Linked DNA regions of Homo sapiens: regions 1, 3 and 4 are each reported to be linked to region 2. Evidence: microRNA targets listed by miRTarBase, many of them from high-throughput screens and not tested one by one. Region 2 holds a microRNA gene; each other region holds the end of a gene's coding sequence.

Evidence for each region. The annotated mature microRNA hsa-miR-3116 reads UGCCUGGAACAUAGUAGGGACU and lies in region 2 at 4,450-4,471, shown strand. An mRNA with a match to its seed (bases 2 to 7 or 8) in the 3' UTR can be bound and repressed. Matches are read on the target gene's strand: a 7mer-m8 pairs with bases 2 to 8, a 7mer-A1 pairs with bases 2 to 7 and ends in A, and an 8mer does both.
Region 1: miRTarBase lists TMEM239 as a target of hsa-miR-3116. The part of its 3' UTR that is shown has no 7-base or 8-base seed match.
Region 3: miRTarBase lists ARL5A as a target of hsa-miR-3116. The part of its 3' UTR that is shown has no 7-base or 8-base seed match.
Region 4: the mRNA of LIMD1 is a reported target of hsa-miR-3116. The part of its 3' UTR that is shown has no 7-base or 8-base seed match.

What each region holds. Positions count from the first base shown.
Region 1 is chr20:2,815,113-2,822,750 of GRCh38, reverse strand. TMEM239 (transmembrane protein 239) reads right to left here and starts at 6,387. Exons shown (of 2, transcript NM_001167670.3): 1 at 6,336-6,387; 2 at 4,689-6,207. The coding sequence starts at 6,196. The coding sequence ends at 5,738. It overlaps C20orf141 (chromosome 20 open reading frame 141), which reads right to left. Exons shown (of 3, transcript NM_001256538.2): 2 at 7,307-7,599; 3 at 6,921-7,213. The coding sequence starts at 7,566. The coding sequence ends at 6,976. RefSeq lists a cis regulatory region at 1,076-1,457 and a silencer at 5,831-5,890.
Region 2 is chr1:62,075,627-62,083,264 of GRCh38, reverse strand. MIR3116-2 (microRNA 3116-2) reads left to right here and starts at 4,409; the gene lies at 4,409-4,476. It overlaps PATJ (PATJ crumbs cell polarity complex component), which reads right to left. Exons shown (of 44, transcript NM_001350145.3): 32 at 3,698-3,815. It overlaps MIR3116-1 (microRNA 3116-1), which reads right to left and starts at 4,479; the gene lies at 4,406-4,479.
Region 3 is chr2:151,797,663-151,805,300 of GRCh38, forward strand. ARL5A (ARF like GTPase 5A) reads right to left here. Exons shown (of 6, transcript NM_012097.4): 6 at 1,135-5,662. The coding sequence ends at 5,614. Among named protein-coding and RNA genes, the nearest start is that of ARL5A, 27 kb to the right of the region's middle.
Region 4 is chr3:45,673,329-45,680,503 of GRCh38, forward strand. LIMD1 (LIM domain containing 1) reads left to right here. Exons shown (of 8, transcript NM_014240.3): 6 at 126-177; 7 at 1,015-1,083; 8 at 3,594-7,175. The coding sequence ends at 3,731. It overlaps LIMD1-AS1 (LIMD1 antisense RNA 1), which reads right to left. Exons shown (of 3, transcript NR_033947.1): 2 at 5,718-6,743; 3 at 4,837-5,603. Among named protein-coding and RNA genes, the nearest start is that of LIMD1-AS1, 12 kb to the right of the region's middle.

The DNA of each region.
Region 1 (7,638 bases), not on the chromosome of region 2:
GAGAGGGAGAGGGAGACGGGAGAGGGAGAGGGAGACGGGAGAGGGAGAGGGAGACGGGAGAGGGAGAGGGAGACGGGAGAGGGAGAGGGAGACGGGAGAGGGAGAGGGAGACGGGAGAGGGAGAGGGAGACGGGAGAGGGAGAGGGAGACGGGAGAGGGAGACGGGAGAGGGAGACGGGAGAGGGAGAGGGAGAGGGAGACGGGAGAGGGAGAGGGAGACGGGAGAGGGAGAGCAAATCAAGTTCTTTTAAGATGGAAAATATTTTCAAGGTAGGGAATTGTCACTGCAGAGTAACCCCAAGTCTTTCAGCAAGCCCCAAAACCTGTGAAATTAACCAGTGTTCACAGCTGTGCTTGCTTTAAAAAATGGAGGCTGGAAGCCAGTAACCACAAACAAGCCACAAGATGAGAAGGGAGCTCAGCAGTGCTACCCTGACCTGAATCTTCACCTCATTACCACATTGAAATCTCCGCCCTGGGGGGTTGGGGGATTGGGGGTGGAGGTGCACTTTGCCGGGGCACATGCAGTGCTGGAGTGAAGGAGAGACTGCACACACTCCAGTTCTCCCTGGAAAGCCCTATCTTTCCAGGAATCCCCGCCCCCAGGCTCTGCCTACTGCCCTAAGACATCTTACAAATCCCTCTTCGCCCTACTCCCACCCCCCCACCCCCCCGCCCCAAGAAGGTGCTTTGAGCACAGGCTCCCCTTCTCCATTCCTTGATCAATGATAAAGTTTCTGCTCTGCTTAACCGAACCTGGTCTCAGTCTATTGGCATGAACGGCACCAAGCAGGGAAAAAACCCCACTGGGATCAAATACCCCCTTGAGGGTCGGTAACAGAATCAGTACAAAGGATGCAAGTATGAGCTCCAGAATATAGATGAAAATGCTCAGCAGAAAAAAAACAAAAACAAACAAACCAAAAAACTTGTCCAAAGGTGGCTGCATCCAGACCCTGTCAGATCCTCACAAATGACAGCTCTTTACCTCAGGGGCATCGGATAATATCAGGCTCAGGCTGTTCCAGGAGTCGGAGTCCCAGCTCAGTATCAGGCCGTTCCTTCTCCAGGGTTCTCAGGAACTCTGCCGTCGACGCCTAGGGGTCTCTAGTGAGGGGAAGTGGCGGCAGGCCGGCGATTTGGGGCAAGGGGTGAGAGTCAACGAAGCTGCCACTGTGATGACAGTGGCCCTAAGATCCCTCTTCTTACCCTCCCGCCCCTCCCCGAGTGCTGGAGTCTTAGCCTGTGGGACACCCCTCCCCGCGCTCTCTCCTCCCACCCCCGCCAAGCCCGCCCCTTCGTTGCCAGAGCCAGAGGGCTCTCCTTGCGCGCTGTCGGTCCCCAGTCCGCGTGCGGCGAGTCCGGGGACATCGGCGCTTCAGGGCCGCCAGCACATGCCCCGTGTGGATGCCCACGGCCTCCCAACCGGGCCGGGCTTGGGATTTCTCTCCCAGCCTCAGACCCTGGCCTGTCCCCCTCTGCCCGAGGGTCATCGCTCCGGCCTCGACGCCCTCCAGCTGCCGCCCTCGCCCCGCTCCGCGCGCCTGGGCCCGGGTGTCCTCGCAGGGTTCCCACCGCAGGGGACCCCCCACCACGCCTTCCCCCGCCTCAGAGCAGCTGCTGTCTGACCAGGCGCTCCTGTCGCCTCAACGCATGCCGCCCGACGTGGCCCCCTCCCTCCCGGCGCGTCTGTGACCACGGCTTCGATGGCCTTGTCCCTGCCCCCGGGCCTTGGTCTAGCGCGCGCCGCACAGGCGTCCTTCCCCTCCCTGACGACCCTGTCTCCTCCCTCATGCCTTGTGGCCGGCTGTCCCTCCCCCACCCCCAGCCCCACTCGGCCTCTCCTAGCCTCCCCCTTTCTCTGCACCCACGAGTCTAAAGGACAGCGCCCCCCTCGCGATGTCCCGCAGCTGGCCCTTGGAGGTTCCTGGGTGTCGCACGGCTTCTTCCTTTCGGGGACCCCTCTCCTTTCCTGAGTGGCCACTGGCGCTCCATCTCTTGAAGGGGTACCCCTCAGCAGCTTGCGCCCCCTGACGCCGCCTTCCCTGTTCCTAGGGGCGGAGGGAAGCCCTACCCCAGGTATCCCCCAGCACATGTGTGCACCGCTGTAGATCCCCCCTCTCCTGAGACGCAAGGCCCCTCTCGCTGACACCGCCTCCGCTCCGGTTCCTTATGCTCTCCTTGACTTTATTTTTCCGGCCAGGCCGAAGTTGTTGCTGGATCCCCGGCCCACAGTCCAATCCCATGAGAGCAGCCTGCGGGGTGCGGTGGGGGAGGGCCGGCAAACACATCCACCCAGCAGCCCAGGTCACACACAGGCCGATAGGAAGGCTCGCCCTTCTTGGCCCAAACCGAAGGGCTTCCACCATGCCCATTCTCCCCAGACTTGCATTTTTAAGCCTTTTAACTCTAAATGGACTTCTTTTTCTACTTTTAAAGGAATTTCAGGAATTACGTTGATGGTATCACGTTTCGCCTCTGCAAGCTCTCTAGCTTTATTGCCTGTTATCTCTATACCCTACTCCCACTTGCCTGCCCCTAGAGTTGTCCATTCCATTCTGTTTATCTTTCGTTTTTATGTGTTCTTGCCAAAAATTGTCTTGTTTTGCTGACATGCTTTTAAATTTGTGTAAGAGGAATTGTATTCTCATTCCATTTCTTTTTCAATGCTAAGATTTTAAGATTGGTTCATGTACCTTCTGCCCCTTCTAATTACTGCCCCTTGGGCCCATCTGCCTTGTTTTACCCTTCCCTTTACCTATCCTGCTCCCACTAGTAACAGTGCAATAGGCATTCTCATAATACCCCCTTATGCTTCACTTCTCAAACAGGGTACAATGTATCACCTGGGAATCTTGTTAAAATGCAGGCTCTTGGCCAGGCACGGTGGCTCACGCCTGTAATCCCAGCACTTTGGGAGGCTATGGTGGGCAGATCACCTGAGGTCAGGGATTCAAGACCAGCCTGGCCAACATGGTGAAACCCTGTCTCTACTAAAAATACAAAAGTTTGTCGGACTCGGTGGCAGGCGCCTGTAATCCCAGCTACTCAGGAGGCTGAGGCAGGAGAATTGCTTGGACCTGGGAGGTGGAGCGCAGTGAGCCGAGATTGCACCACTGCACTCCAGCCTGGACAACAGAGCAAGACTCTGTCTCAAAAAAAAAAAAAAAAAAATGCAGACTCTGATTCGGCCTGTCTGGAGCAGGGCCTGAGACTGTATTTCCAACCAGCTTCCAGGTGATGCCTGTGTTGCTGATTCTGGGACTACATTTTGAGGGGCAAGGCCCTTATGGACCTCTGTGAAAATTCATTCTGGGGTTCTGGGTCCTAGGGTATATGTGGATCTAATTTGATGAGTATTGCCCATCAGCTCTCTAGTCTGGGTGCACCTCCTTACCCCATACCAGCTGGGCAGGAGGGTAAAAGGTATATAGTCTGTGGGGAAAGGAAGAAGGTCTTCTCCTTGCTGCTGCCCACATCCCATCCACTAGAGCATCTGGTCAGGGCCCCAAACTCCTCTCTCCCTTCATTGGAATGGACCCAAGGCTCCAGAGCAACGTCCCTGGCTAGCAATGCATGGCCAAGTCAATGATGGATCTAGGCCAGGCAGCCTGGTCTCTGCCCTCACCACATGGGATCCTGAATCCTCAGCTTGCCATCTAGATTGGCTTGACTCATGACTTCCCTAGGCCTGGGCTTTAGCTCTGATAGGAGCTCTTGAGAAGCCTTGGGGTCTTCAGTTAGTTAGGTTGTTTGTGTTTCCTTTGCCCCCTTCACCTTCCCTTGAGTAGCCTGGTAGGACTCAGATGGCCTGGCCTTGCCACTGGCAACTGGCTATCCTGGGCCTGACTTCTCATCTCTAAAATGGGATGGTCACAGCATAGCTATAATTTGTGGTGCTAGGAGTGGTCCCAGGTCCTTCACTCACATGCCAGAGCCCTAAGACAGGGGTTCTTGCCTTAGTTTTACCCATGAGGAAAGTGAAGTTGAGGAAGGTTTAGCGATTTCCACTAAGGGCATGGAGTTAGTAAGTGAGAGTGCTGGGACTCACGCCCAGCCTCAGCTCATGCACCAAAACCCATCCAACCATGAGACCACATCAGCCCCATGTCCTACCTCGCTCTCACTACCATGCCATAATGCGGGAGAAATACAAAGAAACAGAAAGGAAGGACTGGACCTTGGGTTTTGGCACTGATGCTGAAGGCATCTAATCCGTGGCATGGAGGGTTGCAAAAGTCTAAGGCAAAAATGAACCAGGGTTCTAGGGGCTAGCCCCAAGGCCCTGAGTATTTATGGGACAAAAGAGGGGGACCTTGGGTCTGGGGCTTCAAGAGCAAGGATTTTAGGGTTATACATAAAGCAGGGATCAGAACTGGGCAGGAGTTGGGGATGGCCAGGGCTTGGGTGGGGGTCAGGTGTGGATAAAGTTGTCTATCATGTACCTTACTTGGTAATTACCGATCACTCAATGTTTTGTTGGAGGGGCCAGCAAGTGAACGAACGGCCAGCATTCAGGGCATCAAAGGATTGCCCTTTCCAAAGCCCTTCTGGTGCCTGAGCGGCTTGCTGGGTCAGTTTTGGAAACCCTGGGGCTGTGCTGTCCCCACTCACACAGCTGTGCAAGCATCTGGCACCCAGCCCCAGGCCCAAGCATTTCATAATCAAAATAGTTCAACATCTGCACATTTTGAGATTTCATGGCACATGACCTTTTACATCTTGTACACACTTAACCGACCTCTTGTTTACCATTTTAGGGCCAAAATTCTATCCAGGACAGAGAGTTGATCTGAAAGCCCAGAGAAGCTTCCTGTTCCTTCAACAGTCTTTGGGGTCAAAAGATCTTATGCGCCTACAGAAAGTTCTTAGAGCTCAAAACAACATCTTACAGGTTTTTGGCTTCTACAAAATGCTTCACAAATAGATATTGTCTTTGACTCACAACAACCCCATGACAGAAGTGGCCCACGTAACATTGAGGCTCAAATGAATTAATTGGCCAAGGCCACACATTGTGTAAGTGGGTGAAATGGGATTTCTTGATCATTTTTCCATAACAGACCTTGGGATTCTTAGAGAGTGAGTAGGTGCTGTCTGACCCCAGTTGGCCCATTTCTCAGACTTGGGGATGCAGACTGAGGCAGGAAGTAGGAAGTCTAGGGAGGAGGATGCGTGGGCTGCAAGGTTTGGAGAGCGAGTGAGTTGAGGTCTCCTGGGGCTTCTGGCCAGCCTTCTCCCTGATAGATTTTTGTCACTGGGACCCTCTCTAGAGTCTGTGGTTCTCCTGGAAGTGGAAAGAGGGGATTGGTGGGAGGAATGGCAAGGCCAGTGGTACCCAGGTAGAAGTTCTCAGTGAGTCTGAAGCTGAGACAGCTGAGTGGCTATGAGAAAAAGATGCTGTCAGTTGCCAAGGGGGCCCCACGGGTATCATCACATCCATATGGGCGCTATCAGTGGCTTGGTCAAGCTCTGCCCCTGGCTAAGCAATTTTCACCAATGGCTAAGCCATCTGTCTTGCCCCCTCTTCTCAAAGCCCCCAGCCCCTCACACCAGGAACCTGCAGCATTGACTTGAGGAAGGAGTCCGGGGTCAGGCCAGTCTACCTGTTAGGGACTAGGGGTCTGGGCCCTGCCAAGGCAGGGAGCCCTGATCCCATTGCCCTCCCTCTCCCCGTGGGGTCTCAGGCCCTAGGCCAGGGCTCAACAGACACAGGCAGTGGGATGGGGTTGCCCTTCTATTGATCCAAATCCTGAGTGTCGCCTGGGTGAGTCATGGAGGTGAGGAGGCCCACAAGGCTCAGCAGTGTGGAGAAGAGCAGCAGGAAGGAGGCCGTGAAGAGGAGGGCAGGCAGAGCACTGAGCACCAGCAGCAGGAGAGCCGGTAGCAGGTGGCGCCACACCGCGGCCACGACAGGCCACAAGGAGCTCAGCAGGTGGGAGCCAGTGGTGAAGAGTGCATGGCACAACATCAGTGCCAGCAGCAGGTAGAGTATCCCCTCCAGACCCCACAGCAGGCGCTGCAGCGGTTGCCGCCAGTTCGAGGTGCTCCACCACTGGATCCAGCTCGGGGGCATGTGGCTCACCCACCAGCGCACCCAGCCATGCCTCGTGACCCAGGCTGACCAGGGCACTGCCTGCTGTGGCCCCTCGCCAGCCCCGATGGTATCTGTCTCCACTCGCGGCTGCTGCATCATGTCTGGTGCACCTGGGGAGAGGGCCAGGGTCTTGAAGATGCCTGGGACCTTGGGGGGGGGGGGCAGAGAGGGGGTGCAGGGGTCAGGAGGGCACCAGTGTGCGTGGGGTGGGGCTACAGAATTAGGGACTGGGACTTACCTCTGGGCAGTTACCTAAGTCATGTTGCTTCCTGCAGCGCCCAGGACGGCCTGGCAGGCAGATCCAAGTCCCCACTCTCATCTACCCCCACCCTCCCCAGAGGAGCCCCTTTGTGACCCGGGCTGGGGTGGGGTCCAGCCAAGAGAGGAGTCACTGTAGGGTGTGAGGCCCACCCAAGTCCCTCTGCACGGACCCTCCAGGCTGGCAGGGGAGCCTCGGAGCCCCGCAGATGTAGTTTCTCATGCTTTCTCATGGGAAGCCCTCCCTGGATCCCTGTCCCTTTCCTGCTTTCCCTGCTGGCTGATATCCACCCCTTTCCAAACTGCTCTCTCGCAAGTCTTTCTGTCTGGACCTTCATTCTCTAGAGCCACAGAGGAGGCCAGAGTGGCTGCCCCCAATCCACAGGCTCTGAGGTGGCTGCCACATTCTTCCTTGGGCTCCCTGGCTAGTATCCTACCTTCTCTTGCTGCCCAAAGACTCAGATCCAGGTATCTGATACCTATATTATAGGACTGTGAGGTTCAGGCTGGGAAGAAAGGGGTATCATCCCACCTGCCCAGCCAGGAAGGAGAAAAGGGGGCCTGATGAAGAAGGGTGGTCATTGTATATTTGAAGGACACTGAGTTGTGGGGAGGGGCTCTCAGGCCCAAGGATGGAGGCAGAAAGCCAGGCCAAGCAGGGTCAAGGGCATGCCACAGGCTCTCAGGAGCGGGCCCAGCCCCATGAGCAGCAGCAGCAGTGCGTCCTGGAGGCTAAGTTGTCCTGAGACTGTACCCATTTGCAGGAGTAGAGCCTCCTGCTGTCCAGGACCTTCACCGGCCCCCTGACTCTGGCCCCTGGTGAGAAGTTTGCGCTGTGGCAGAGTGTGACCTGCGGGCCTGTGGAGAGAGAGGGTGGTGACTGGGCTTAGGGAAGTTGTCCACTGGCCCGCCCGCCTACAATGCCCACCTGCCAGGCTGCTGCCCACTTACCTATGGAGCAGGTCAAAGGTGAGGAAGCTGACCAGAAGCAGCAGCAGGGCTGGGCCAGTGGTGGAAAAGACTGCCTGGATTGTCAGTCCTAGTGCCCCCAGCCATAGGACACTGTCCAGGAGCTGGGCCCAGCTAGGGCCCCAGGTGGATACAGGTGGACGCACTGGACTACCTGACCCCTCCCCAGCACCCAGGCCCCTTGGAGGAACTGGGATCGGATCCTCACGTGCTTCGGGTCTGGGTAAGCAGAGCCGGGTCATGGAGAGAGGTGGAGGTGACGGGAAGACCTAGTGCTGAAAAGGATTATAAGGGTGAGAGTAGGGGAAGGGGTA
Region 2 (7,638 bases):
TAATCCCAGCTACTCAGGAGACTAAGGCAGGAGAATCGCTTGAGCCCGAGGCAGAGGTTGCAGTGAGCTGAGATCGCGCCATTGCACTCTAGCCTGGCCAAGAAGAGTGAAACTCCGTCTCAAAATGGCAACAACAACAACGAAACCTCAAAACATTCAAAATGTTGAATAGTTTCAAGAGATGCTCATATAAAATGTTGAATAGCTTCAAGAGATGCTCATACAAATCATAGTCTCCAGAGAATGTCATATTTTCTGATAACTGAGTTTGATCACCATGAGTATTGTTTCTTACATTATGATATAATTCAGGAAAGGGCTGATGAGAGAGGGCTCCATCTGCTGGTCAGCTGCAGCTAATGCACAGAGCTGAGATGAGATCCCAGTGCTCATTAAACCTATGTAAAAGCAGGGGTCAGCGGACTATAGCTCGCGGATCAAGAATGGCTTTTCACTTTCAAAAGCTTGAAAAAAAATCAAAAGAAAAATAATGTCTCAAAGCATGTGAAAATGATATGAGTCTAAATCTCAGTGTCTATAAATAAAGTCGTATTGGAACACAAACCCACTAATTCATTTATGCCTAGCCTATGGCTGCTAGCATACTACAATGGCAGGGGTGAGTAACTGCAATAGCGGTTGTGTGGCCCATAAGCCTAAAATATTTACAATCTACTTCTTTATAGAAAAAGCTTGTCAATCTCTGGTATAAAACAAAAAGAAACAGGCTCTAGGTAAGCCTGTGGGGGTTCTGCTCTAACTAAGTGATAATCATGGTCTTTGAGATGAAAAGGCACAGGTTTTGGAGTGGCACAGAGCCACAGTTGAGTTCCTAAGCAGGAATTTAACAGGAGGGTGAAAGTGGAGCTCACTTCTCATCAGAAAAATGCATGTAACCACTATTAAAGAGGCTGTTAGAGAAACTAAATGAACAGTGTGTGTGAGGTGCCCGGCCCAGAGTCTGGCACATTGTGGGTATTCACATATCTTGTTCCCATCCATATGGAATTTATTAATCTAAAGGCCTCCTGGTTAACAGCAAGAAATTCAGTGATACAACCATAAAAAGTGCCATATTTAGAAGTAGCCTATGGCCAGCCTATGGTGGCTAGCACACTACAATGGCAGGGGTGAGAAACTACAACAGAGGCTGTGTGGACCACAGCCTAAAATATTTACTATCGACTTCTTTATAGAAAAATCTTGCCAATAAGACAAAAAGAAAGGCTCTAGGTAAGATACAGGCAAGGCAGAATATTAAATTGTAAACCAAATTTGTCTTTAAATCTTTTTGCAGCATATGTATTTTATACCACATTTCCCATTAATTTACAATAAAAATGACGTACGATAGTGGCACACTTTCATGGGTGCTTTAAAAAGTTTCTATTGCTTTTAGGTCGGGTGCGGTGGCTCACGCCTGTAACCTCAGCACTTTGGGAGGCTGAGGTGGGCGGATCACCTGAGTTCAGGAGTTTGATACCAGCCTGACCAACATGGTGAAACCCTGTCTCTACTAAAAATACAAAATTAGCCAGGCATGGTGGCACATGCCTGTAATCCCAACTACTAGGAAGGCTAAGGCAGGAGAATCACTTGAACCCAGGAGGCAGAGGTTGCAGTGAGCCGAGATCACACCATTGCACTCCAGCCTGGGCAACAAGAGCAAAACTCCATCTCAAATAAATAAATAGATAAGTAAATAAAAAGTTTATACTGCCTTTGTAAATGACTAGCGTAGTCTCCTGAGTGAGAAGAGAGAAAAAAACCTGGTGAGACATCCTGGAGATGGCATTTCTTTTCCCTCCTCCACGTTTGCCTCACCCTAGCCAGTCCTGAGTCAATCTTTTTATTTACTTCTCTCATGGAATCCAGCCCCAAACCCAGCTCATACCAAGTCCTCAATAAATGCTTGGTAAGTAGATGAGTAAATGAATAAAATTTCTATAGATTCAACTGTAGGATGATGAACTTCATTTATTTATTTATTTGTTTATTTATTATTTAACCATGAGAATGAAAACCAGGAAGGATGCTGAATTTCTGTCATCTAAGTATAAATATGTGATATATATTACCAAAACTCAACTTGTCTACCTCCATAGTCAGCATGCATTGTTGGTAAAGTGCCAAGTATACATATTTTAATAGGGCATTACAGGCCAGACTGTCTCTGTTGTGACTACTTAACTCCATCATTATAGTGTGAAAAAAGCCACTGACAATACAGAAACAAATGAGTGTCTATAAACCTGTATTTGTGGACACTGAAATATGAATTTCATAGAATATTTTAATAAAATTTTCTTAGGTGTTTTTTCAACCTTTAAAAAGTGAACACCTTTTTTAGCTTGTAGACCATACACAACTAGCTGGTAGGCCAGATTTGACCCATGCGCCATAGTTTTCTGACCACATGCATCAAATGTTTTAGTACATCTACAATGCTTTAAAATAGTACCTGCTTGATGAACTTTATGAAGTTAATATTTATGAAAAAATATATAAAAGGCAAATACCACAAAGATTTCAGAACTGCTAAATTAATGCAGGGTTATGCTTTGCCATTGGTGAGTACTGTCTTTTAAAGAGTTTTATTTTTTACTGATGTATACTGCACAAAAGCAAAGTAGGGCTGGGCACAGTGGCTCACGTCTGTAATCCCAGCACTTTTGGAGGCCGAGGCAGGCAGATCACTTGAGGTCAAGAGTTTGAGACCAGCCTGGCCAACATGGTGAAACCCCATCTCTACTAAAAATGTAAAAATTAGCCGGGCATGGTGGTGAGCACCTGTAATCCCAGCTACTCAGGAGGCCGAGGCAGGAGAATCACTTGAACCCAGGAGGCAGAGGTTGCAGTGAGCTGAGATCAGCCCCCTGCCCTCCAGCCTGGGTGACAGAATGAGACTCTGTCTCAAAAAAAAAGAAAAAAAAGCAAGTAGAAATACCTATTATTCTTTATAAAGTTCTATTTTCAACCCCCAGTCAGCATAATTCAAGCCAGGAATTTAAAGACAGAATGTGCATGCCAATTTCTTTAAGCATTGAAAATCAACATTCTTCAAACAGCTTAAAGCAACATTTGCAGGGCTAAAAATTGGGTTTGATAGGATTTTTAAAGAGATATTACTCAAGACCTAAATATAATCTTTTGTAGAGATTAGAGAAGAATAATACAGAAGCCTCAGATTCAAATAACATTTACTGAGGTCCTTTTCTTTTCCTTTTTTTTTTTTTTGAGACAGAGTCTCACTCTGTCACCCAGGCTGGAGTGCAGTGGTGCAATCTCAGCTTACTGCAACTTCTGCCTCCTGGGTTCAGGCGATTCTCCTGCCTCAGCCTCCCGAGTAGCTGGGATTACAGGCATGCGCCACCATGCCTGGCTAATTTTTCGTATTTTTAGTAGAGACAGGGTTTCACCATGTTGGCCAGGCTGGTCTTGAACTCCTGACCTACTGAGGTCCTGTTCTGTTCTAGTGCTCTTATATTCAAAAAGCAACAGGCAATGGCGATGGCAGAGAGGAGGAAAAATGATGTAGGAAATGAAGTGACCTATCCAAGCCCCAAAGCTAAGGAAGCGGAGGAAGTATCCAGAGTCAGACTTCTGCCTCCTGGTCCAGTTCTCGTTTTAGGACATTATGATCCCTTGCCTTCTCTAAGGCTTAATGAGCCAGATCTGCTGAGAGAAAGAATCATACCATAGCCTGTGAAGTCTGCATCTGTTGAATGGTATGATGAAGCTGGTGCTAATGGTATCTCTTGTGAACTGAAGGAGACTTTTGTTGGATATTTTTGCTGTTTCATCTGGCTGACAGCCTACAAAAGAAAGGAAAATTAGATGAATATCAAAAAGGAGAAAGGTAACAAGAAAATACTTTAAAACTGGTGTATTGTTACCAAAACAATGGTGCAGTCCAATGATGTCTTTTGAGAATATAAGGTTGGAGGGTGGCAAGAAGTTAGGATGATTTATGCCTCGTTCCTCATTCTTCCCTATTTAACTTTACAACTAAAATGCTTTGATGAAGGGCAGATCAAGGAAGGGAGGAAAGATAAAAGCTGAAGATACTCTGTCAGTGTGATCTGTACATGAAGCTGGGGGTGGGAGGCAAAACAAAAATTATCTTGCAATTTCTACTCATTCTGATGAAATCAGCAAGAAGCCCCTTTATCTATGGACTTTGAAGTGACTTATCTGTGTTGTGCACATTGAAAAACAATCTACGCTGGGGATGTTTAGAGCATCAACACTGTCCATTTCTTCTGGACACACTAGAGTCAAAGATGCATTTGGTAGGTTAATTAAGCAAAATGAGGGGCAGACAAAGAAAACCAACACCTACTGAAAGCCTACTAAATGCCAGCTACATCAGTGACATTTAATTCACATAAAGGAAGCATAGCTCCTTTATTGAGTCCCTACTATGTTCCAGGCACCTACGATACCCAGTGCCTGGAACATAGTAGGGACTCAATAAAGTGCTTGATGAATGAATGAACAAGAAAGAAAGAACAAAGAAAAGCAAAACTGAAGACATGAGTAACTCAGGGTAGAAAGTGAACTTGCAATTCAGTGAAGGTACAGGGACCTCTACTGTGTGAGTTTGGGAAAAATTAACTTGTAATTCTGGATTTTTGCTGACAGTACCTCCAATGAATATTAATATTAAAAAACTAAGGGGCCAGGCATGGTGGCTCACGCCTGTAAACCCAGCACTTTGGGAGGCTGAGATGGGCAGATCACCTGACATCAGGAGTTCGAGACCAGCCTGGCTAACATGGTGAAACCCCATCTCTACTGAAAAAAATACAAAAATTAGCCAGGCGTGGTGATGCATGCCTGTAATCCCAGCTACTTGGGAGGCTGAGGCAGGAGAATTGCTTGAACCCAGGAGGCAGAGGTTGCAGTGAGCTGAGACCGTGCCATTGCACTCCAGCCTGGGCAACAAGAATGAAACTCCGTCTCCAAAAATAAATACATACATACATACATACACTAAGAAAAACCAAAAGGACTCCTTGCTTATTTAACAGGCAGTTAAGAAATATAGGTAGTAACCTGACCTGCCTTCTGGATCTGCAGTTGGCCAGGGAACCCATCCCCAGCTGGAAGAGTCTGGTAGTGAAGCACCAGGTTGCCCCTGGAGTCTAGAAATAGGACCAAGGTAACTGCTCCAGAACTGTAACACCTCAAGATTCTGTCAGTGGAAAGCTGTGCCTCAATACAGGGCATTGTGCAGTGTGCAGTAACAACAAAACAATACCATCCATTGTGCATATGCACTGTGCTTTCTAGTTTTCAAAACACTTTTACATCCATAAATTCATTCAATCACATGAACAACCCCGACAGTTAAATATTACTTTTTTTCTTTTTGCAGAAAACCAAGCATAAATGTCAAGTGACATATTTGAAATCACACTGCTAATTAGAGAAAGAGGTAGAACCGGAAGTCAATAGTTGAAGAATGCTACAAGCTTAAAGTGTTTATCAAACAGCTGATAGGCAATGATTCTATGGAGTTTTTTTGTTTTTTCCTGCAGTTTTTCTATCACCATCTTCTTTTTTTTTTTTTTTTGGACAGGGTCTCACTCTGTCACCTAGGCTGTAATAGTTGTGTGATCTCGGCTCACTGAAGCCTTGATGTCCTGGGCTCAGGTGATTCTCCCACCTCAGCCTCCTGAATACCTGGGATTACAGGCGCACACCACCACGCCTGGCTAATTTTTTGTATTTTTAGTAAAGATGGAGTTTTGCTATGTTGCCCAGGCTGGTCTCGAACTCCTGGACTCAAGCAATCCACCCACCTCAGCATCTCAGAGTGCTGGGATTACAGGCATGAGCCACTGTGCCCCGCCACTATCAGCATCATTTAATATTGACTAAAAAGAGACTTTTTCAATTACATATTTATCAGTGATTTTTAAAGGAAGAAAGTAGAAAAGGACAAATAAGGGGTTACTATAAGAAAACAACATTGAGAGGACTTAGATATCCAATTATTCTAAGGACCACATTTACTAGCCTCATTGAAGGTAGGTGTGCCAACAGGCTAAGTCCTGGTCAATGGGATGTAAACAGAAGTGAATGTACAATTTTTAGGTCATTCTCCTAAGGAGAAAGATCCTGTCTTTCCCTTCTCACTGCTTGGAATACAGATGTGTTGGTAATAACTGAAGCAGCCCTCTTAAACTAAAGAATGGATGCCACCATTTGAGGGTGGTAGAGTAATCAAATAAGAATGGTATAGTAATCAGATAAGAGGTGCTTGGGTCTCTGACACTTTGGAGACACCATATCATTCCCCAACTGACCACACACAGCCACACACAGACTCTTATGCTAAAGAGAACTTCTTGCAGCAATTGAGCCTGTGTCTTAACTCACACAGTACTTACCTCCAACTTACATTTTATATCACCTCAAGAAAGAACATGGATTCCCAACAAAGCTGGGTGCAAGCCGCAGAGTTCTTTTATGAAAAATCACGCGACTTTTAAAATAAGAAAGCACTAAAGAGAGCAATCTAGATTACTAAATTACGACTTTTCTATAGCATGAGATGATTGTTGCTTTTCTTTATATCCCAGTTTCATGTAGCATCTGGTGCATAATAGGTCCCTGATAGATACTGGTGGAATTGAATTCAATTTAACAATAAGGAAGCAGTCCATAGAATCCAAGTGAAATGTCCAAACATATATACATAGAGGCTGGCCTCCAGTTGTCGGTATGTGTGGTGATGGATGAAGGAGTGTTCCCATGACTCATTCATTGGCACAAAACCAAACTACTGTGTAAGAAAGATCAGAAAGAATGGATTTGCTGTTGTATGTTACTGTATTATAAGAACTGAGATGGACTTTATAGGTCATCCAACCTAACTAAACCTGTGGTTTTCAACCCTGTTTCATAATAGGAACACCTACGGAGCTTTTAAAAATTACAGATGCTAGGATCCCCATCGCAGGCAAAATAAATTAGCATCTAGGGGTGTGGGTCCCAGGCAGGTTTTTTTTGTTTTTTGTTTTTGTTTTTAATTGAGACTTATTGATTAAGACTTAATCTTCTTTTAAGAAGCCCTGGCTTAAGAATCCATGGTTTAACTTTAAACGATGTCTCAAAAACAAAACAAAACAAAACAAAACTTGCCTGGGATCCACATCCCTAGATGCCAGTTTATTTGGTCTGGGATGGGGGTCCTAGCATTCGTGATTTTTTTTAAAGCTCTCTAGGTGTTCCTATTATAAAACAGGGTTAAGAACCACTGGTTTAGTTGTAAAACACCCTTGTAGTTGTATCAAAATTGTACTTGTCAGTGTTTTTCTTTTCTTTTTTTTTTTTTTTGAGACGGAGTCTCGCTCTGTTGCCCAGGCTGGAGTGCAGTGGCGCGATCTCTGGTCACTGCAAGCTCTGCCTCTCGGGTTCACATCATTCTCCTGCCTCAGCCTCCCGAGTAGCTGGGACTACAGGCACCCACCACCACGCCTGGCTAATTTTTTGTATTTTTAGTAGAGACGGGGTTTCACCGTGTTAGTGAGAATGGTCTAGATCTCCTGACCTTGTGATCCACCCATCTCGGCCTCCCAAAGTGCTGGGATTACAGGCGTGAGCCACTGCGCCCGGCCCTTGTCAGTG
Region 3 (7,638 bases), not on the chromosome of region 2:
TAGACATAGCTGCCTCCTCAATGCTGTATCTTGGACATTAGCCTAAAAAAATATCTTTAAAAGTGCTTTGCAGGTATCACCTCATCTCATGGAACCATAGAGGGATCTAAGAAAAGGCTACTCCAATCTAAAGGACTATTTTCAAGCAAAAATAGAGGAATTCTGTGTATCATCAATGAAAGAAGTTTAGGGGAAGGGTATAGTACATATTACAATAATTTAAAATCATACGCACATTTCACTTTCCATGCACGATGATTTTAACATGAAACAATGTAACTATACATCACTGAAAATACAATCAAGCTTTGCCCCAGAACTTACAGCCACTCTCTATAGTCAGTTAAGAAAAACCCTGGAAGAATATATGATAAATGTATTCAGATTCTATTAGTTTTATTTGTAAGCAGATTCTAAACAAAGAGGATGAATTTGGGCACATATACACATGCACAAATGAAATGGTTCAACATCTAAATGATATGACACAAAATTACCACTATGAGAATCAAGAGGCTACTCTTATGCAAGCAACAAACTTTTACTTATGATTTCAAACATACAGTTTAATTTTCTGTTAAAACTGTTTTAAAAAACAGTACTAGGGTTCAGTTTTCTAGTCTCGGCATGAACTAATGCCAGGGACCTATTTGAATTAGGAAAGAGACAAAATGGTGTGATTCGTGCTTCATTACATCATGGTTTGTTGAGGGTTAGGTGAATATCTTCCATTTCAAGACTTTTTATTTAGGCCAGGCGCGGTGGCTCACACCTGTAATCCCACCACTTTAGGAGGTTGAGGCGGGCAGATTACGAGGTCAGGAGATTGAGACCATCCTGGCTAACACGGTGAAACCCCATCTCTACTAAAAATACAAAACATTAGCCGGGCGTAGTGGCAGGCGCCTGCAGTCCCAGCTACTTGTGAGGCTGAGGCAGGACAACCGGCGTGAACCCAGGAGGCAGAGGTTGCAGTGAGCCGAGATCGCGCCACTGCACTCCAGCCTGGACGACAAAGTGAGACTCTGTCTAAAAAAAAAAAAAAAAAAAAAAAAAAGACTTTGTATTCAAATAAAGCACAAATTGTGACAGAAATCCTCTAGGCTGTGTCATCAGTTAAGACAAGCCATACGATACCATAGAAAATACATATAATTTATTAGATGGGCTTAAAATCAACACAAATCCATTTTTAGGCACTTCTTGAGTACAGACTATGGGAATTTTCTACCAAAGAACAGGATATCTAGCAAGCAACAGCATAAAGATTTAAACTTTAGTTTTCAGAACAATACACAAGGGCTAGACATTGATAAGAAATACTGCATAACTAATCCAAGTGTATCCTGGAACATTTCTTCACAATCTGACAGGACTTTAGGGTTAACTAGAAAGTTACTTTTTAGCATCCAAAATTGTAATTTCTGGCTTTCTTTCCTTTTTACTCTATTATCATGGTCTTAAAATAATCTATCGCACATTCTTTGAGGGAGCATGATATACAAGTTTTATTTTTGTGTAAGTGGAGCTTCAAAGACATATTTCTCTATCTGCATTTACAGTCAATGCATGACAAGTGATTATTTCGATGTCTTTAAAGCCCATTTCAACAGGTTTATTTTTTAAGGATAGGCTTTTCATTACTAACTCCTTTAGACATCTAATGTTTATCTCTGTTTTGTAAGTAAACATGAAAAAAAAAATGGGATGTGGGCAATAGTTTCAAGAATGCCCTTAGATTATAGACTACATATAAATTTGGTTTGGCATCTTTTTCCAAATCAAACTGAACTGGTATTCTGTGAAACATAACCATTCTTGGTAGTGGGAAGATAATACACATAAAACTTAATCCTGCCCATGCCTAACTAGTAGCTCACGGAAGTGGTAGAGTCTGGGTATTTCTCCTATCTTTCTGAATCTACTTCCCAACATGTGAAGTTAAATTAAGAAGCATGAAAATGTTAAATATAATTTAAAGAATTCTAATATTGGCATCTATATGCTATACACACTGCAAGCTGGTCTTCTGATGGACTCCACATCTCTGATAATGCTCTCTAATGAGCAAAGTCCAAATCACTACCTCAAGCCAGTGGTGAGAAGATAGCAAGGAACTAGAAAAGCTACATAGAAACCACTGGTTTGGAAACCATTGTCTATAACAATAGTTACAAAGAAAGTTTAGAATAACCTCCAGGACAGAGATCTCTTCACTAATAGTAAATGAAGATACAGGAGAGCAAAGGATACCTGAGCTATGGGGAAGCTGACCTTGAAAGCAATGAGGTCCAGATTACATTTGGAGAGTGGGAGAGGTCAAAGTTACGAGGAGAAACTTGTCTCTACCCAGCCTTGAAAAAGTGATTGATGACAACATACAACTGGGCAGTTGAGAGAAGACTGGAGTTTGGAGATAACCGATGATGTGGTATTATCTCCTGTATACAAAGCAGAGCCTATTACACGTACATTCCCAAAAATGCCTCCAGAGAAAACTAGAAAGTTGTCTATAGATTTTCTATTTACACTAATATAAACAGGTTTGGAGGTTGTCTGTACTGTATGTGGTTGCTGTAGTGACAAGAAATGTAAAGTGCCTATACAAGAGGGAACAATAGAGTCCTATTTCTAGGCATCTTAATACTATATGCTGAGACAAAAAGGAAAACAATGTCAGGGACTTCATGCCTTTGCTCAAGCTCTGTGCATTTCTCTGGGTCTCAAATGACCTACTAGGCACTTTTTAAAGGCCAGAAAATAAAAACTCTTCTTCCCTCTATTTCATCCCATGCTTCTAAAGTCACTTTCACTGCCTATATTAAAAATGCCAGCCATCAGTGCTAAAGCACTTTTATATTCTTAAGGCAAAATGTCACATAAGAAAATGAATCCCCTATCCACTTCCCCACTATAACCCCTATACAACCTGCCTTCGTTGTATCCTTTGCCCATTATGAGGACCAAGAGGTACTGGGAAGATAAAGAGAACTGAAAATTTCAAACAAGAACCCTCTATATAATGTGTAAGATGTACTTTTACAGATGCTATTATGATAAAATTAAACATATTCAAATGCTTATAGCATATGGTTACTTTTGCCCAGATATCAAAAGAAGTTACATGACTTTCAAAATTAGTATCAAAAACAGGATATTTAAATCCAGCCACATGTACAGAACTATGAATCTTTGTTCTTCTCAGAGCTGAACACAATGACTCCACGAGATGTTTTCACTCAGAAGTGGCATATTAAAAACCCAAAAGCATCTCCCTCTGCTTAATTCCACTTAAACTACATAAAAATTGCCAATATGACTTTTCACCAGCTTCTCCATTTTATTTGAAAATAATACTTTTAAAATGATTTTGACATTTTCATATATAAATTTATTTTTTTCCCAACTATAATTTTGGTTTTATGTACAAGTACACAAGTACCACCTTATTTTTAATGTTTACCTTGAAGGGTAGAAAACAAAATCATGTTTTATAAATGTGGTATAAAATTACACATCTTCTCATGATGTCATGTCAATAATCCACTACACTAAACCAACTGTAACAAGGTAGTACATGCTTTAAACATCCAATTAAGAATAAATCTGAGCCAACACCTTGATGATGACAAGGGAATGTGCTGATATCGTGTTAAACTGATGTGGCAGTAATCCAAGGGACTAAGCACATGATTATTCAAATTAAAACATAAAAAGGACAAAAGGTGTGGATTTTCTGGGCTACATCACATAATATTTGTCTGGCGAAACCATAATACAGATTTGGGTAAAGGAGATTTTTAATAGATAACAAGTAATTCTTTATAGGGATTTGAGAAAGTACGAGAACATATGGGAAAAGCTTAGTAATTTAAGATTTACTTTTGTAAAACCATGTGGACAAATATTAAATGTTATGCTTGCATTTTGAACATTATAAATATAAAACATAAAACATCCAATGTTAAATACTGATATCCCATGCCTGACCTGGATTTAGATATTGAGTATTTCCCATTTTAAAGAAAGAAACTTTCAAAGTTTTGTCAATACTTAAACTATATACTATTATTCCTCACCAAAATCTTCATGAAATTTAAAAGGCTGATATTGAAGGTAGTTTTTTTTTCTCAAATATGCTAAAACATGTGAGTTTGGATTAACCTTCAGATTTTCAAGGCATGAAAGATACATAAATAGAGTACCCAAGAATATGTTTTAACACATTTAGGATAAGTTTGTTTACAGTTGTGACAGGAATACCTTTGACTTTCAGACACTGAAAAAATATACCCTAAGCAAACATAAAAGGTGTTTTGGGTCAAGTTACTTCTTAGTACAAATAATACGTTGTATCAATCAATTTTTAAGCCAAATTCTTAAAATCATTCAAAAAACACTTGCATTTTATAATTGTCAATGCATTTATGTAATAGAAGATACAACAAAATTTAGAAATAAAAAATCTCACACTATATTCCAAGTACCAAAATAAGAAGAAATTTGCAAATTAAGAAATTATCAATGTTGCTCAGAAACATGCCTTACTTTTACTCTGAAATTCACTTTAACTGCTTGACATATAATTTAATACTTAAAAATAATATAGCTAAGTTGTTTAATAGTATTTATAGAATGCTACTTTTCTGGGTAGACATGTTTCACAAAACAGTTTTCAATTAATGCTGAGCATTCATTTGATAATTGTAATCATAATTTGATTCACTGATTAATGGATTAATAATTTATTCAGTAATTTAGATGCCATAAGAACCACTGAAAGGAATAATCTGATAGTTGCTCATTGTACAATCCTGCCTATTAGTAATACTAAGCCAAGAATCTGCTAGCTTTCCCACTCTGTTGAATTACATGTTTCCATGTGTGTGATTTTGGTCAACAACAAAAAATCGATACACAATGTCATGCTTTTTCCTTTTCCTTTTTTTTTTTTTTAAACAAGCAGCTCAGCGATTTGGGAGGTTGGTTAGTACAATACAGAGAACACAGAGAGAAAGTATAAAATGGCACTGAACACTAATGCCAATACTTATCTCATTGTGGTTATAACGAAGGATATTATTATTTGTGTTATTTTTGTCTGGAACATAAATCAATGCCATTAACTTGAACTTGAGGTATATACACAATACACACACAACCTTAAGCAAAATACTTTTCATAAGTAACATTACATTTTAAAATATTGGAAACATTCGAATATCTGTGCTGATTTGTATTCTGACTTAATGGAACAAGAAGAAAATAACATTCAACTAGGGAGGGTTAAACTGATAATAAAGCTCTTAAAATTCAAAATGTCTTCCTCTCCCTTTGTACTTACCATAGGCTACACAATGTCCTGAGAGGATTCATTATGAGAAAAATGTCAATCACAGCTTCAATAACTTACTTTGGAAAAAACTAATGAGAAAGCAAACTGGAAGGTGAGACTTCATCTTTGTTTTCAAATAAGTGGTCTTAATTTTTCTTCTTATAGAAAAAGTTTAAATCAGTTTATTATAAATATATCTAAACCATTAATTTTTGCAGCTTTCAGGTAAAGTCCAGCACTTCATTTATACAAAATCTATGAGAAGAGGTCAGTAGAGATCATCTAATCTTAAGTCGTGACATCATCCATTCAAGTCCTTGGCACAATCTATAAAGAAAACAAAATCATTTGATTAAATTCTGAACTAAGAAGCTATGAGCAGCAAACTATGAACAGCAAACTAAAAGAGAGCATTTTTCATTTAGCTAAATAACAAAGATTTAAAAATCAATAATATTCAGTGCTTGGGCTGCTGCAGTGAAGCCATATTCTCATACACAATACATCTGTGCTTTTTTTGTCTTTCCTCTTTTTTAGACAGGGTCTCACTCTGTCACCCAGGCTGGAGTGCAATGGCACAATCAATGGCAGCCGTGACCTCCTGGGCTCAAGCGATCTCCCCACCTCAGCTTCCCCAGCAGCAGGGACTACAGGCGTGTGCCACCACACCCAGCTAATACATCTGTGCTCTTTTGGTTCAGTTATATCTCTAGCACCCAGAACGCTGTCTGACACTTTAAAAAAGCTTTATAATTATGCAATGAGTGCCCACAGAAAGCAACATATGTCAAAAATATATCTGGCAATACGTATCAAAAATATTTAAAATATCAATACTCTGCATCCTTTTTTCTACTTCTAGAAATGTATCCCAAAAAAGAAAATCAGACATAAACATAGACTTACATACAAAACTGTTCATTAAAGTACTTTTAATAGGAAAATAATTTTTGTCTAAAAATACAGAAAAAAATAAATTACAAGACATTTGTATGATGAAATATTTAAAATTTTCCTTTAAAAAATGATTTCATAATTCTCATCACCAGGAAATGGAGGAAATAAAACCATTTTATAATAGGATAAAATGCTCATGATATAAATGAAAAATGGCAGGATATTCAACAAAATATATATTGTAGTTATTAAAACAAAGTATACACATGTTACATAAATATTATAAAATGTAAGTATGTAAAACTTTTGAAGGCAATAAAATTTCTTATCAGTAACATCAGTTATCACTGAACAACTGGTAATTGAACATAACCCAAAATATAGAAAACGATGTTCACTGTGGGAAAAGAAACTAAAAGTTGAGCAAGAGAGAAATGGTTGTACACATTAAGTTGCAATAAAATGAAGAACTGTTATAAGTATTAACTATTATCTATGACAAGCTTTTGCAGACATAAAAAACTATGTTACAATATTAAATTTTTTTCAATTCAGAGTTTTGTTAAGTATGAGTCTAATAACGTAAAAGAAGACACAAATAGAAAAAAGATGGCAATGAGGTAAATAAATGGTTGTTTTGGGGTGGTTGTCCCATACTTTTCTCCTGTGACTAGATTCATTACTTTTAAACTACTGATAGGAAACAGTACACAAAAATAATAGATGAAGAGATTGTTTAACTCCAAACTGATAAATGAACAGTAGTTACCTAATAGCAAACTAGAAACTAACTTAATATCCATTCTCTTAATTAATCTTTACAACACTGAGATCAGAATCCTTCCAATGTTACAGAGGAAACCCAGGGTTGGCAATGTTAGCAAATGGGAAAAGTAGGAGTCAAATGAAGCCACACACTGAAGTTTGTGATCTCCAATCCACTGAATCAAAACGCTAATCAATACTAAAACCAATAATTTAGATCAAGGTAGCTGAACTATAAAAGAAAAACAGAACATTTCTCTCAAAACCAAACTCATCTATTATTTTCCTATTTTTAAAACAAAATTGCTTTACCTCTTTTTAAAATGAAATTGAGTTAATATCTATACTAATGATACATTTTCCATACAATTATCAAAGTATATAAATTAAATCTTATGTCAATCCTAGATGACGTGTCTTTATTGACAAATATTATAAATCCATGCTTTTGCTTGACAAAGATATATATATTAGACTATTTGACAAAGAAATACTTAACATATTTTTACTTAAATGAATACATGGATAATTGGTATTATCTGTGATTTTTTTAATGAACAGTTTTTTTTTAATTAAAAAACCTTTTTTAAGGTTCTAATTATGCTCTTCCAAATGTCAGTAACAGTGCCTTCTATTAAGAT
Region 4 (7,175 bases), not on the chromosome of region 2:
GAGGGAGGAGAGCAAGGGGCAGGAGGCGGCATGGAGGAAGGCTCCATGTGGATTCCAAGTGCAAGTCTGACTCTGGAATTTGCTCCCAGAAGCAACATTTATTGCTGCTTTGTTTCTCCCCACAGGGTGCTGGCCCCCAAGTGTGCAGCCTGTGGGCTTCCCATCCTTCCACCTGAGGTAAGATGCCCTTCCAGACATGCTCCCAGGGGCTTCTAAGACATGAATATCTCCCTGGGCTCATTTACAAGATCCATGTCCTGTCCTTACAGCTTTTAAGGTATCCTTTTAAAAATCTCAACTCTGGCCTGGTGCAGTGGCTCACGCCTGTAATCCCACCCCTTTTAGGAGGCCCAGGCAGGAAAATTGCTTGAGGCCTGGAGTTTAAGAACAGCCTGGGCAACATAGCAAGACCTCATCTCTACAAAAAATTGTTAAAAATTGGCCAAGTGTGGTGGCATGTGCCTGTAGTCCTAGCTGCTTGAGCCCAAGAGTTTGAGGCTGCAGCGAGCTATGATGGTGCTACTGCATTCCAGCAGGTGACAGCAAGACCTTGTCTCCAAAAAAAAAAAACCAAAAAAAACCCCACTTCACCTTTGAGATAAGTCGTGTCTTCACCCTTCCTTGTTGACTGGCTTCCCCAACCCAGTACCCTTCTTGTGCTGATTTGTCCCCATAACCAGGTCAAACTCCCTTACTTGATACTAATTCTTAGATTAGCAGATGAGGAGAAAGGCTTGTCTTTTCTTCATTTTTTAAAATAAGTGTCCATGTAGGTCTTTCTTTCAGTGTTAACTCTGACATTCTAGAAGGAAGGACTCCTATCCCTCCTACTTCCCCTCTCATCAGCTTAAATGTATTCTTCTTCCAGTAAGTACTCCTGATTTACCTTCTCCTCCCAAGGCCACCTACTTGTTACCCCCAAAACCCTCTTCCCTCCCCACCCCACGGTACATCAAGCCCGACAGCCCCCCTAACAGGCCTCTCCTATGTGTTCTTGCTTTTCTCTGGTCCCAGGGCTCAGATGAGACCATCCGTGTCGTGTCCATGGACAGAGACTACCACGTGGAGTGTTACCACTGCGAGGTAGACCCCTCCCCACCCAGCCCCCAAAGCCCATTGTAGACATCCAAGAGAAAAGCATCCTGCGTTGACTGGGGCAAGAGGCAGTCAACAAGATTCTGGCAAGGGTCAGCCCTCTAGAGCTTCTGTAGGAAATGGAATGAAGGCTGGTTCTTGGGGGAGGTAGGAGAAGATGGAAATGCTCAAGGTATAAAGGTCTTTCTTCTGCATATTCAGAACTATCAAGTCCTGCAACTGTTGGAGCTGCTCTCCCTGAAGCTGCAGAGCTAGGAGGGTCGTGGAGAGCATGGGTTTCAGGTCCTATCTGCGGGCCACATTGTCAGGCAGGTGTGCGATTTGGGGAAGGGACTCCCTCCCCTCCAGCTTGCAGGCTGTTCTATCTGCCTGAAGCTCCTTTCTCAGCTGAGCCCTGGAAATCATGAAGCCCCTCTTGGAAACAGGCATGTCAGCTGGTGGTGTGAAGGCGGGTGGGGTCCGCCTGCCCCTTCCTGCCCTTTGTCCCAACCCAAGATGAAGGAGCACTAGTACCTGATGACTGTCAGGAAAGCTAGAGGTTGCCCCTCACCAACCCTTGTGAAGGGTGACCATGGAATTTCAGCCACAATTAAGTGAATTCACCCATGGAAGGAGATTAGATTCATTTGGTGACCCTGTGGGTAGAGAATGGGGGTGTCCCTCATATAGACTTGTCCCACTGCCAACACTGAAGAAATGGGTGGGAATCATTGCTGCTGGGACCCCAGGTGCCCCAGGTCACTGCAGGAGAAAAAGGTGAGGACATTTGCTCAACAGGCCTCTCCACATTTTCTAGACCAGTGCTATCCAAAAGAAATATAAGGGGCCGGGCGCGATAGCTCACGCCTGTAATCTCAGCACTTTGGGAGGCCAAGGCCGGCAGATTACTTGAGGTCAGGAGTTCGAGACCAGCCTGGCCAACATGGCAAAAACCCATCTCTACTAAAAATACAAAGATTAGTGGGCGTGGTGGCACACGCCTGTAGTCCCAGCTACTCGGGAAGCTGAGACAGGAGAATTGCTTGAACCTGGGAAGTGGAGGTTGCAGTGACCTGAGATCATGCTACTGCACTCCAGCCTGGGCAACAGAGCAAGACTCCGTCTCAAAAAAAGAAAGAACTATGAGAGCCACAAATTAAAGTCATGTATCATTTTAAGTTTTCTGGTAGTCACAATTAAAACGTTAAAGAATTATGAGAGCCACAAATTAAAGTCATGTATCATTTTAAGTTTTCTGGTAGTCACAATTAAAACGTTAAAAGAAACCGGTGAGATTAATTATTTTATTCGGTTCAAAATATCCAGCCAGGCATGGGCCCATGCCTGTAATCTTAGCACTTTGGAAGGCCGAGGCAGGGGGATCACATGAGCCCAGGAGTTTGAGAACAGCATGGACAACACAGTGAGACCCTGTCTCTACTAAAAATACAAAAATTAGCCAGGCATGCTGTGCCTATAGTCTCAGCTACTTAGGAAGCTAGGATCGTGTCACTGCACTCTACTCTGGGTGACACAGCAAGACCCTGTCTTAAAAAAGTAAAAAATCCTGCTGGGCGTGGTGGCTCATGCCTGTAATCCCAGCACTTTGGGAGGGCAGATCACTTGAGGTCAGGAGTTCAAGACCAGCCTGGCCAACATGGTGAAACCCTGTCTCTACTAAAAATACAAAAATTAGCCAGATGTGTTGGCGCGTGCATAATCCCAGCTACTTGGGAGGCTGAGACAGGAGAATTCCTTGAACGGGGGAGGTGGATGTTGCAGTGAGCTGAGATCGCACCACTGCACTCCAGCCTAGAAAACAGAGGGAGACTGTCTCAAAAAAGAAAAAAAAATCCAAATGTTATCTTTTGAACATGTAATCAATATAAAAAAGTTACCCATGAGATTTTTTTTGTAACTCCACAATTTATTTTATTTCTTCTAAAAAAAAAAAAGGGATACGTGTGAAGATTTATTACATAGATATATGTTGTACGTGTGCCAGGGTGGTTTGCTGCACCTATTGTCCCATCCTCTAAGTTCCCTCCCCTCACCCCCACCTCCCAACAGGCCCTGGTGTGTGTTGTTCCCCTCCCTGTGTCCATGTGTTCTCATTGTTCAACTCCCACTTATGAGTGAGAACATGTGGTGTTTAGTTTTCTGTTCCTTTGTTAGTTTGCTGAGAATGATGGCTTCCAGCTTCATCCATGTCCCTGCAAAGGACATGATCTCATTCCTTTTTCCCATGAGATATTTTTACATCCTCTTTTTGTCCTAAGTCTTCGGAATCTGCATTTACACTGACAGCACATTTTAAGTGGTTCACAGCAAGTGCCTTGTGGCAGTGTCTCCTGTGTTGGACAGGCCTCCACGGGGCAGGAGCTGTGTTTCTGCACTGGCATTTCCTGCCTATACAGAAACACACAGCACCCTCTGCTGATTTTGGGGACTGTGGCCTTCAGGTCAGTCTTGCAGTCTGTTTTGTTTTGCTTCCCCTGGACATGTCTGCCTCCCCACAGGACTGTGGTCTGGAGCTCAATGATGAAGATGGCCACCGCTGTTATCCGCTGGAGGACCACCTGTTCTGTCACTCCTGCCACGTGAAGAGGCTGGAGAAGAGACCCTCATCTACAGCCCTTCACCAGCACCACTTCTAGCCAGAGCCACTTGCAGACATCACGGCAGGGGATGAGGAGCCGGGGTTGCTGCTGCTGCTTCCGGTGGCCCCTGGGGTGGAAGTGGGGTAGGGGAAGAGGAGGGGCAGGAGGGAGAGTTCCTGTGAGCATGTGGGGGGTGCCTTTCCTTTAACCAGGGAGGTGAACACTACCTGCCTCCTGCGTGTATTTTCCAAGTGCTTTTCTCTGTTGCCACATTTTCCTCAGGTTACTCAGGAAAATGCTCCAGCATGTGCGAGCACATGACCTGAGGTTGCATCATAGCACCAAAGGAATCCTCCTGTCCCCTCTGGGAACATTTCATGCTTCAGAGGGAGAGGTTTTTATTGAGCTTGTTTCACAATATCCCCTTGAAGGGACAGCTCAGCTGCCAATACATTCAACCCTTTCTCTTCCTTCAGGAAAATACCTATACCCAAATGTTCCCTCCCCCGACATATATCATGGCATGATTTAAGGCTTCTTTTCACCTGAGAGCTTCAGTTCTTCTGCAGAATGGCTGCAAATTTAATTGCATTAAGGCAAGAAGGAAGCTCTAATGTGTGCTTTGTATCCTAAGATAAATTTGCTTAGAAAACCAGAGTCAAGATTTGAAATAGGTGAGGCAGGGTTTCCTCCTTAGACACTGACAGCATTCTCTGTACCCCTTCAAATCCTTACTCTCCTAAAGGCAGCTGAGTCCGCGACAGAAATTTGCCCTATGTGAGTAAAACATACTTTGGGAGAAGAACTTGGTGCAGGCACCAGGATTTTTTTTTTTGCCCACGTGTTTGCGCTGTTTTTCTCTGGAGTTCTCAAGAGTTGGTGACTTGGAAGGCCGCTTCTGCAAGGCAAGTCTCAGGAACCCATGCAGGTACATCGCTTGCACCTGTTTTTAGCTTATTTAATGACGGGCTTTTGGGAAGAGCTGCCCGCATACTGAGAGACAGCTTCTTATAAACAAGGAGAGTTTTTGTGTGTGCGAGATCTCTAAGCCAGCGTGGGAGGGAGCGCCTCAGGATAAGTTATTATATTCATTTCGTTGGTTTCTCTCCTGCCCAATTCTTGGCACAGGCATTATGTTTGAAGAAACCAGGATAAGGTACACTGCTTTTGTCTGTTTAATTTTTTTAGTTGTTTCCCTTCACTTTCAGTCTTCCACACACAAAAAATACCTCACAGAGCTTCACCAAATCACAGATTCAGGAGGAATTTGGCTTTCACACTGGACTCAGATACCTTCTTCAGTGTGTTGGAAATCACTGGCTTCACACAGGCCCAACTCCAGCTGGTCAGGGCAGAGTGATCGTAACTAAAGGTCAGTGGGGAATAGATCCGATTCAGTGCTTTTGCCTTATGCATTTCAGCATCCTGGCTCCCCAGGGTGGCAGGAGCTGAGGGAGGGCCACACACTGGCAAGATTTCAAGACCACTCTCTGCACTGAAGAGGTAAAATTTGCACTGCAAGTCACATCCCTGAGGCCAGAGGTCAGTACCCTTTGGTATTTCGATTAGAAGAAGCTGCAAAAGAAAGGCAGCCCATTTTACCATTGCCAGCCAGGCCGGGGACACAGGAGCCGGTGTGTGCACTCTGCCTCCTCACCTTGCACCCAGAGCAAGAGGACTGGGTGCTGGGCTGCAGAGGCCGGTCAGTGGAGCCCCTAGCACGTGTGAACTCAGGCTTTTCATTGGGCCCGGCTCCACTTCTAGGCCATGTTTTGACTCATTTGGTAACCATTGCCTGTAAGCAGCACAGAATTGGTGCCATGGATTATCTTTTCCATGTTGATGGAATTCATTCTGTTGGAATCCTTTGGCCAGATGTCACTTCAGCCAGGGTGTGCATCATCATTGGTTCTTTTTCACAGGCTGAGCCTCCTGAAAACCCATGAACGCTGGGGCTGGGGAAGTGAACCCTGAGGTGGGGACCCTCTCTTCCCATCAAATCATCCAGCTCAGTGTGGGGCGTGGCAGGGGGGTAAATGAAGCCAGCCAATGTGTTAACCTGTCTCTGTCAACCTAAGAATGTTGGCCTTACTGACACACCTTTGCTCCATGTTCAAGACCAGAAGTAGCTGGGATTTGTTTGCAAATTGGGTAATTAGTTTAAAAATCTGTGATTACATTTTTAAATGAAATTTTCAAAGTGGCCTAGATTGAGGTGATTCAGATAGGTTTGCGAATATACCATTTTATATTGTTGAGAAAGAACAAAAAGGGAATTTCCAGATGTCCTAGAAATCCTAGCAACAGATTTCTCTGGTTGTCAGTTTCCCTGGAGAAGGCGCCAGATAGGAATCTCCAATCAGTTGTTTTTCTCTTCGCTTCAGGCCCTTACACAAAAGCCATGAAGAGATGTTCACCTACCCGGTATTTTAAATGTTCTGTAAATTATTAGCCAAATAGAACTGTAATGGGGTTGTATTTATGGGCGCCTAGAAAGAAAACACAAGGACTTGGTAGGCCAGGAAGAAAAGATTTTAAAATTTAGAATGAATAGCCCTTCTGGGTTTTCTTTTTGACAATTCTTGGACTTGAGGTAAAACAAGGAGGATTGTGGCCGGATTTCAGATCCCAAAGCCAGCCTCCATCTTAGGCCTTTGCCTCATTGTGCCTTTTAGGTTTTCTTACCCACCGTCTCCTGTTTTGTCTTTTTTTTCTTTTCTCCTACCCCTATCTTGGGACATTCAGAAACTGCCTGGGTGGTTTGAGAAGAGACAACCCAGTTTGATCTGCAATACAAGGATCCATTCGTAATCTCTCTCTCACTGATGTTATTCCCCCATCTGCCGTCTTGGTTCATCTCACCACAGAAGGGCATTTAGTCCTACCCAGCCATCGGCTGCGTATGACAGCAGGATGGCACTTCCCATTTCTCTGTGGTTAGTGCTCGAGTGAAAACCTCTTTCAGCTGAGTCCTCTGAGGTTCTGCTGTTGAGTCCTGGGTGGCTGATGGAATGATTGAGGAGGTCTGGTCACCCTCAAGCGCCGTCATCGCCTTGTTTCCATGGGCTTCTGTCACACAAAATGAAGAACAGAAATGTTAGGACTTAAGAGAATGTTTGGAATTCACACCTCTTTGCAGTCCTTTCAAGGCTGCTGCTCTGTGCTGTGTCCCATGCATGTGAAAGTAGAGCTGTGATGGCTGCTGGGACGCTTGCAAAGATCATGTGTGAGAATTGAGCACAAGACCACAAATTATTACTGCTTGATGCGCTTGTTAAAACTCTATCTGCCAGGAAACCAAATTTTCTTTTCTTTTCTTTTTTTTTTTGAGACAGGGCCTCACTCTGTTGCCCAGGCTGGAGTGCAGTGGCGCGATCTCAGCTCACTGCAGCCTCCACCTACTGGGCTCAAGTGATCCTCCCACCTCAGCCTCCCGAGTAGCCGGGACCACAGGCGTGTATGACTGGCTACGCCTGGCTAATTTTTGTATTTTTAATAGAG